Regions from separate parts of the Homo sapiens genome. Here region 2 is linked to region 1. The links come from fine-mapping of genetic effects on gene expression. Tissue or cell type: monocytes. Region 1 holds a variant in brackets; the other region holds the start of a gene. All regions are shown on one strand. Distances are between the middles of the regions.

Region 1 (4,397 bases):
TTAACTCTCTTTAAACCTCAAACTAAATTTGGGATGCTACAGAGGGCCCATACAGCATCCAAAAGACAAATAAACATGCCTACTTAATATATTTTAATTTTTTTCGAAACAGGCTCTCACTCTGTTGCCCAGGCTAGAGTGCAGTGGCACAGTCACAGCTCACTGCAGCCTCAACTTCCCAGACTCATGCAATCCTCCTACCTCAGCCTCCCAGGTAGCTGGGATTACAGGTGCACACCACCCTACCTAGCTAATTTTTTTGTGTTTTTTGTAAAGATGGGGTCCTGCTCTGTTGCCCAGGCTGATCTTGAACTCCTGGGCTCAAGCAATCCACCGGCCTCGGTCTCCCAAAGTGCTAGGATTACAGGCATAAGCCACCATGCCAAGCCTAATATGTTAGATTATATGAAAAGCATTGTCAAATAAGAAATGATCTGCAGTTAACTTTCTTTGAGTTATATTTTTATGAATATATTATTTTAATATATGTTTGAAAATTGTATAATAGTCCTAAAATTCTGACATGTCTTGGTATATTTTATCAGTCATAATTATGGTTATTATGTCCTTAGAAATAACTAAATTTTCTTGTCAATTGCAACCTTAATCATGTTCACAGTTAATGGCTTAATTCTGATAGAGTTTCTAAAAGCTCTTTACAAGCAAATAAACTCCTAAAGTACTGTGCCTTCAAGGAAGTTCATGAAAAAGATAAAAAGGACTCTGACAAAAATTCTTAAATACAGAGTTGTCATGACTAGAATCGTATCATTTAGACTGGGTAAGAAATTCCCAGAACTCTAACAAAGGGGTTGACTGGTTTATGAAACTGCTAACACAAGCAAGACAAAAATTAATTGAATACCAAGAAAATACTTTGCCAGATTTTCATGCTACATCAGCCAGTACTAAAATTGTTTAGATATGCAGTTTAAATGAACTCCATTGTTCAAGTCAAATTACTTATGATAACTTATCTAATAAACAGTGCTTTGCACCTAAATTAGAGAAACAAAATTCGTAGTTAAGAGGATATAAATCAAATGTTAAGCGTAGACTCATGGAGAACCTGGATGGCTACCTGGTTCTTCCTGAGTCCTTAAAACTTCCATTATATAAAGCTCTATATCCATGACTCATTATAAAAAAAGATAAAACTATCCAAATTATATACATAATTTTAGTGACTGTTGTAGATTACTAAAACGGTCTTAATATCAATGTTTGGTTTGTTAAACCTATAATTCTAGAAAGATAATAAAAACTTTAGGTATATTCTGCTATCTGATAGGCCAACTAAAGATTTATAGAGAGATTTCATTCAACTGTCATTTTCAATGCCTGTTTTCTGGTAGTATGAAAGCTTTCCCATGCAAGAAAACTGATGCTATAATAGTAACTAAAAGGTTATTAGGACATATTTTTTCTTTATGGGACATTCCTAGAAAAATCTCCACCAATAAAGGTACTTGTTTCACTAGACACGTTATAAAACAGTTAAATAAGTCACTACAGATACAATTGCATTAGCCAAAGCTAACTTAATTGACCGGATTGCCTTGATCAAAGGTTTTACAGATTAATGACAATCAGATCCTCTTCTCATGGAAAATATAACTTGGCCTCTTATGAAATAATCACTTGAAGGCCTATGCTTCTAATAACAGAAACTCATGTATCTTCTGCTCCTAAACTCTATATGACTAAATGCTACAGGCTTTTTTTTTTTTTTTTTTTTTTTTTTTTGAGACAGGTTCTCTCTCGGTCACCCAGGCTGGAATGCAGTGGTGGAATCATGTCTCACTGCAGTCTCAACCTCCTGGGCTTGAGTGATCCTCCCACCTCAGCCTCCCAAGAAGCTGAGACCACAGGCACACACCACCACCCCTGACTAATTTTTTTTATTTTTTGTAGAAATTGGGTCTCACTCTTGTTGCCCAGATTGGTCTTGAACTCCTGGCCTCAAGCAATCCTCCCACCTCAGCCTCCTGCCTCAGCTTCCCAAAGTGCTGAGGTTACAGGTGTGAGCCACCCTACCCAGCCCGGTAAGGCTTTAATACATTATGCCAGAGTATATTTTCACCAGGTTAAAAAAAA[C/A]AAAAAAAAAACTTTTCATAGCCCACCGACTGAGGATAACCAAACTCTTCATGATTTACAACCCTGAGATTGGGTCTTTTGGAAAACAAAATCAGAGAAAGACTACTCTTGCCACCCACACTACAACAAAACTTTTCTACTATCAAGACACTCTTATCTCTTAATTTTTTCCTTACATATGCCTCTATAAACAATAAAACAAGAAAAGGGGTCTTGTATACACTCATGTGGTATACTTTTATTTGTGAAAGATTTTACAGTCAACTTTATACATGGACAACTTTATGCCTTAATAAAGGAAAGACAAAGGGCCGATGTGGGGGAAAAAATTTAATGGTACTTTCATTACTTCATGATCAGACAAAAACAAAACATTGGTCCACTCCTCTTAACCTTTGTCTATAAGAACATTGCCAGGAGGCCTTCACTCTTCTGGATGGGCATGATTTGTTAGGTCTTTTCTTCCATGGTTTAGAGTAAATGAGACAAAAGTTAAAAATGTATCCCTCATAAATTTCTACAAGGCTGTATAATAGATTCTTCTGCAAAGACTGTGGTTACACAACAGACTTCTTTAAATTCTCATACTAAAATGGTGGTAAATAATAGAATTGCTCTAGATTACTTGCTGGCTAAACAGAAAAGTATCTGCACAGTTACTGACACTTCTGGTTACACATAGATAAATACATCAGGTATTATAGAGACATAGTTCTAAGGTATTAACAAACAGACTGCTTGGTTAAAACAAGTAGACTTTGTATTTAGCTCATTCTTTGATCATTTAATTTTAGTTGGTTTTGTTTATGGGGATCTTGGCTAAGGAACATACTTCAAACTCTTGGTATTATCTTCCTAATAGTCATAATAGTAGTCTCTCTGGTACACTGTATTCTCTCAAAAGTTTTAAATGTTTTCATACAACCATTCATAAAATGTCAAATGGTCTCCCTTTGACTAGAATGACAAAAACCTCAAAGAAATGCATGATCTGTAAAACTGTAGACGTCAAAATATTACAATAGTCAGTTTATGTTATGCATGTTCTACCAAATAAAAAAGAAAACAAACCACCCACAGAATGTCTGAAATTACAATTAATCATTGTTTCAACCTCCTAAGTTTTGAAATGATAGATAACTGGAACAAAACTTAAATGATTGCTATTAAGTAGATCAAGCTAGGCTGCCCACCTATTTCATTCCTAAGGATACAGTGACAAACTAGTCACCCCAAAAATCTTGTGGTACAAAACACTCAGATTACTGCTTAGTTCTAACTACCCATGAAAATCATTTGCCCACCTGGCCTTTGGTGGTTTTACTGTCCCTGGGATTTCATTGTCCTCTAAAATCAGGGAGCACATTTCAATGGCAACATCTTCCACCAATACCAGGCCTGAGAACAGTGACTACAGAGCTCTTCAAGGTTGTGGGTCTTCCCTCATCGGTGCATTTCTCAGCATCTTAGAGAAGGGGATGCCCTCTGGATTTGGGGACAAGGAGGCTGCCAGTCAGCACGATAAACCTATTTCAGCATTTTAATCTCTCCGTCCCTTAAATTCCTTCCTCTGCACTGCCCTAGAGAAGTCCTGGCAACTCGGCCTTACTGATTGTTGCCCAACACTATTGGTCAACCAAGCAAGCAGATGCTGGAAACGCTCTCTAAAAATCCAAACCACACATCACATCTGACTCCTGTGCTGGCTCCAGGCCAAGCTTTCCTCTGGGTCTCTGTGCTTGTCTCTTTGCAGAAAAGAAAACAAAAGGAATGAATATTCAGGGCGTTTGTGCCTTACACAAGATAAAATTTCATTACAGGATATGCAACTTGCCATTCCTGGGGGAGCTCTGAATCCTAAAGTAAATATGAAAGTTTTGACACATCTCTGTGTTTCAAGCAGTTGCCATGTCTCTTGAAAGACAAGAACATAGCATATTCAGCATGCAGAAGGCTGTCAAAACATTTGTTTTTATTACATCTAACTGTCCTGTGTTTTCAGTAATACTGGTGGCCTGGCAATGTGATCCTGAGCCAACTAGGATCATCAAACCATCTAGTCAGATCTGGTGGGAGCACTGACACCAGGAATATGTAGACCTCGGAATTCAAACTTCAGGGGGACTTTTACTCTCTCATGTCTTAAGGTTTATTATTTCTTATATGCCAACTTTCTTTACTTATTAATCTCATCAATAATGTCAGTCATTGCTTTTGGCATACTGTGGGAATGATCAAAGATATACCCATGACCAGGCATGGTGGCTCATTCCTGTAATCCCAGCACTTTGGCAGGTCGA
Region 2 (4,397 bases), 37 kb before region 1:
TTAATAAAACGATTATAAGACATCACTAACTTAGTTTGGGAAATGATGACAAAGCATCACTGAAATTTTTTCATAAAAACCAGGGAGTAAGTAATAGAAACTCCTACAAGAGCTGTTCTTGACACTGCTTCCTCCCTTGCCTGGTTACGCAGAGCTGGGCCAAACCCTGCTTTATTAGTTTGGAGGTATCTTCCTCTGCTTCCTGCCGGCCAATAACCTGGCCCCTGCCCACCCTCAGAGAAGGGCCAACAGCAGGGGTGGGTCCACTTCATGAGGCTTTAGAATGACCCAGTTACTGACTGAGGGAATCAAAGGTTATTTGGAAATCTTTAAAAGGCTGTTTCCTTTCCCAGCACTGAGCTGTAACGTGATACTGACCTGTCCGGCAGTGTCACAGAGTTGGAGTCTCACGGGCCGCCCATCCACAGACACCACCGCTTAAAAACAAAACCAAAATGACAATCAGGAGGTGTCTTTTAACCCCTTTCGGAATACTAATAGTTTTAGCTTTCACTATCATTCTCACTCCAAACCCCTTTGCTCCTATTTTAGGTCCTCTAATGAATTAAAGACTAGCCAAAAACAAGGAGGCCCTGTGGAGGCATTTTTGTATACAAACCCACGGCTGGCAAGTCACTCCATTACCGTGAACCAGGCAGCAAATCCCTGAACGCTTTGATGGTGACCCTAAAAAGGCCTATGCTTTTCTCCCAGTCCTGGAAGATTTATTTTCCTGTCACACTTGTTTCAAAGGACCTAAAAACAACACTGGGGGTAAATGGGAAGCAACCCTGCAGTTTTAAATCAGTGGAAAACCTCACAAATAATTCTGTTTTCCCTTGGGAAAGGTTCCCCAACTTCAGGGTTTATCATACAATTCTAGTGTGTTTTGAGAACATGTGCAAACACAGGCTGCCCGCATTGTCCTGTTTAAGAAATGAGGGCACTCCTTATCTCTATGTCAGGTCAAAAGGAGGATTAAAAAAGAAAAAAGAAAGCCATGGCCCCCTTTCCACTGGGATCCGGGGACTCGGGGAGTGTGGAGAGGCCTGCAGCAGGACATGTTGTGGAGGTTTCTATTTTAATTAAGCAGTCAGTTTTGTCTCTTTCTACACAACTTTCTAATTGTTTCTAAATATTTATACTAGTCAGCTGCAGGGGTGGGGTGGGGGGAGGGGAAGAAACAATACCCTGCGGTGGGAACCCACCAGTACAGCACCCATTTCTCTAAGGTACCTTTGGGATGAAAGGAAGGTCAGAGAAGCAATTTTTTTTTAAAGAAGCAAGACAGTTAAGTGTTTCATACTAGTTTCTGTGAATTTTAACTTTTTCTTAAATTTCAAAAAGACCTGAATAGCAAGATAGAGAATTCCTTTCTCTTTGTATCTACCAAGGGAAATGGCATCGCACCCGGTACATAGGAGCTTTAAGTAGCTTAAAGGGATCCTGAAAAGATACCAACAATCAGAATCCGAGCCCATGTGGGCAGGGAAGGTGGTGGGGCTCAGAAGAAAGAAATGGTGTTTACTCTTCAGGTTTCATCCAAACCTAAGCCTTCACGAGGGCCGCTCGCGCTTTTTCACTAAATCAAGTGTTTTCCCGGCGTCTCCGCGGCTCTTTAAAGCGGAGACGCCCCTTGTGAGCTGAGCCGCCTAAAAGCAAAGGAGCGACGCTCAGGTAAAGGCACCTGCGCGTCACCTTCTGATTGAAACTCTGCAGCGGCGCCAGCGACGTCGCCCTCAGGAAACTTTGCTCTATGCAACAAACTGACCGGGCACCCTGAACTCAACCTGTTTCACTCCTACTTATCTGTTGCTTAAATTGTGAGATTTTTTTTTTTTTTTTTTTTGGCAAGGCTCTGACTGCCGCTCCGCCCTCCTCTCTCCAAGCCCACTCCGCCGTGGTCCTTTCGTGTTAGCTCCGCGCTTGCCCGGTCCCTGAGACTCAGGAAACGTCCTGCACTCCTCATTTGTCCGGCTTCCCAGCTGGAGCCGCGCCCGGGGCCCTGCAGCCCCCTTGGGAACCTCGCGACCCTCGCGCCACCTTCCTTCCCCTGGGTGGACCGCGGCCACGCGCCCCCGGCCCCGGCCCCCCGGCCAGCTCACCGGAGAAGTTGTCGAAGGCAGTAGGGATGTACTCGGTGGGGTAGCCGTTGGTGGTGTAGCTCACCACCAGGCTCGTCTTGCCCACCGCGCCGTCGCCGACCAGCACGCACTTGACGCCGCGCCCCTCGGCACCCCCCGCACGCCCCCGGCCCCCCGGCTCCCCAGGCCCGCGTCCCCCGCGTCCACCGCGCTCCCGACGCGGCGGCACCGGAGGCGCCTCGCAGCGGTCGGGGAACGCGGGGTCCCCCTGCTGCGGGGGCATCGATCCGCGAGCGCGGGCTTGCGGTCGCGGGCTAGCAGGGCCCGGCCCGACCGCCCCTCCGCCCCGGAGGGTTGCGGTAGGGAGGAGCTGTCACCGACAGCTGCGGGCGCGTCCCCGGCCCTGGAGAGTGGCGGTTCCGGGCCGCACGGCCAGTAGACAAAGGCGGCCAGGGAGGGTCGTGGCTCCGCGCTCCGGCGGCGCCAGCCGCTCTGCCCTGCGCTGTTGGAGGACAGCGGTCCGAGCGCCGTGGATCCCAAGCGCTCTGTCTCCGCCCGGCTTCCCGGCGACACGACGCGTGGGGGGCGGGCAGGCGGGCGGGCTGGCGGGGAGGGAAAAGAGGCGGGTCTGGCCGAGCGGCTCGGTCCCCGCGCCAAGACCACAGCGCCCCCCGCCTGCGCGCCGCGCGCCTGCACCCGCGCCCGAGGCGCCGCCGCGACCAGGCGGGGACTGCGAACACTGGCGCGGGAGGACCTGGAACACACGTTCCGGGGGACCCCGCGCACCCGGTCCGGGAAGCGACGCCCGAAGGAGCCGGGCCAGCCTCCGCAGCCTCCTCCCCAGCTCCCAAGAGGGTGACCACCGCGCGACTGGCCCGGGAGGTTCCGCTTTCTGGCGCCCACGCGAGCCAGGAAGCCTGAGCCGCCTCCTATTCACTCCGTGGAGCCCCCGGCTGGCCACGGCTCCACCCAGGGGGAAAAATGAAGTGTCCTGGAGGCCTGTCCTGCGAATGAGATTGAATTAACAGACAGCTTTTTTCCTTAAGTCTAACTGCAGCTGATCGTGTGATTTTTTCTCATTTTGAAGCAAAAGGATGCCAGCTCCATTGTGAATGCTCCTTTGACTTTGTCTTTCGGCATGCCGTGAACCTTTATACATGTATGCTCCAGAAATTTTTTTATACCCCCAATTCCTTCATTTACTTAAAGGTAATTCGGAGACATTAATATGTCTGAAAAAATATTCCGTTTCCCTTTGATTCATTTCTCTCTCTGCCTTCCTTCTACATGTGGTCAACAGTCTATTCAGAAAAAGGACGCCTCTTAGCCAAGTCAGAATACCAAGAGTCCTGGGGGTGTACAGCGTGGTGTGAGAAGGGCCACATATTATTAATACACATTGATACTAGTGGTAGTAAAAATAACAATAACAAATACTGAACTTTCATAATGTGTCAGATACTGTTGTAAGCACTCTTCAAGAACTAATTCTTTTAATCTTAACATTACTTACAGATGAGAACACCTGAGGCACAGAGATATTAAGTAACGTTTTGGGATTCCACAAGCTAGTAAGTGGCAATGCCAGGATCCAAACCCAAATAGTCTAGCCCCAGAGCCTGAGCTTCTAACCAAAATCCTGGAGGCAAAAATAAGTCAGTATGATAAACGTAATCTTGAACGTATGGCCATGGTCAGAATGCAGAGATGGATTTATCAAGAAGTTAGAAGCTTGAATCCAGGACCCCTGACTTGCAAAGGACACTTTCACATTGGAAGACCTAGCAATGTGTACACGTGGTAATATGTTTCTGTAAATTTTGAAAAAAAAAAAAGTATTTTAATCACCACCAGTTATGTTCACTGTCTTTTTAAACTGTAACTTACCCTCATATTGAGTGACTTTGAAGAGGCCATGAAGATTTTGGGGATCAGCCAAAGAAAGTGAAGTTGGGGAGACCCAAACAGGTTGTTTGGGTGTAATGGGATACAGAATCAGGATGAAGGTGAGATAAGGGGGATGTCAAGGATGCAAAATTTATGACAAATTGAGCATTCAGAGGCAATATCAAAAAACAACAAATTTAGAGGGCCCTTACTCTCAGGGTCAGGCAAGTGCCAATGTTAAGTTTTGAGCCTCAGGTACCTGACTTGCCTCTCCCTCGCCCTGGCTGTGATGACAGGATATATTTATGTGGTTTACAGTTCTCCTATGTAGATATGTTGTTGCTAGCCATCCAGGTATAGGAATGGCTACCACTGACATACCTATGACCCTCTGTGAGAGTCACATTGGTGCCCTTAACTGTCTTA

What was found.
Region 2: RHOU starts here. The variant in region 1 is fine-mapped to the expression of RHOU in monocytes (Quach 2016, PIP 0.95).

The regions. Positions count from the first base shown.
Region 1 is chr1:228,696,797-228,701,193 of GRCh38, reverse strand. It overlaps a transcript of RHOU not described here. Among named protein-coding and RNA genes, the nearest start is that of RHOU, 36 kb to the left of the region's middle. The variant C/A (reference allele first, on the strand shown) is at 2,098.
Region 2 is chr1:228,733,713-228,738,109 of GRCh38, reverse strand. RHOU (ras homolog family member U) reads right to left here and starts at 2,631. Exons shown (of 3, transcript NM_021205.6): 1 at 2,106-2,631; 2 at 379-437. The coding sequence starts at 2,367.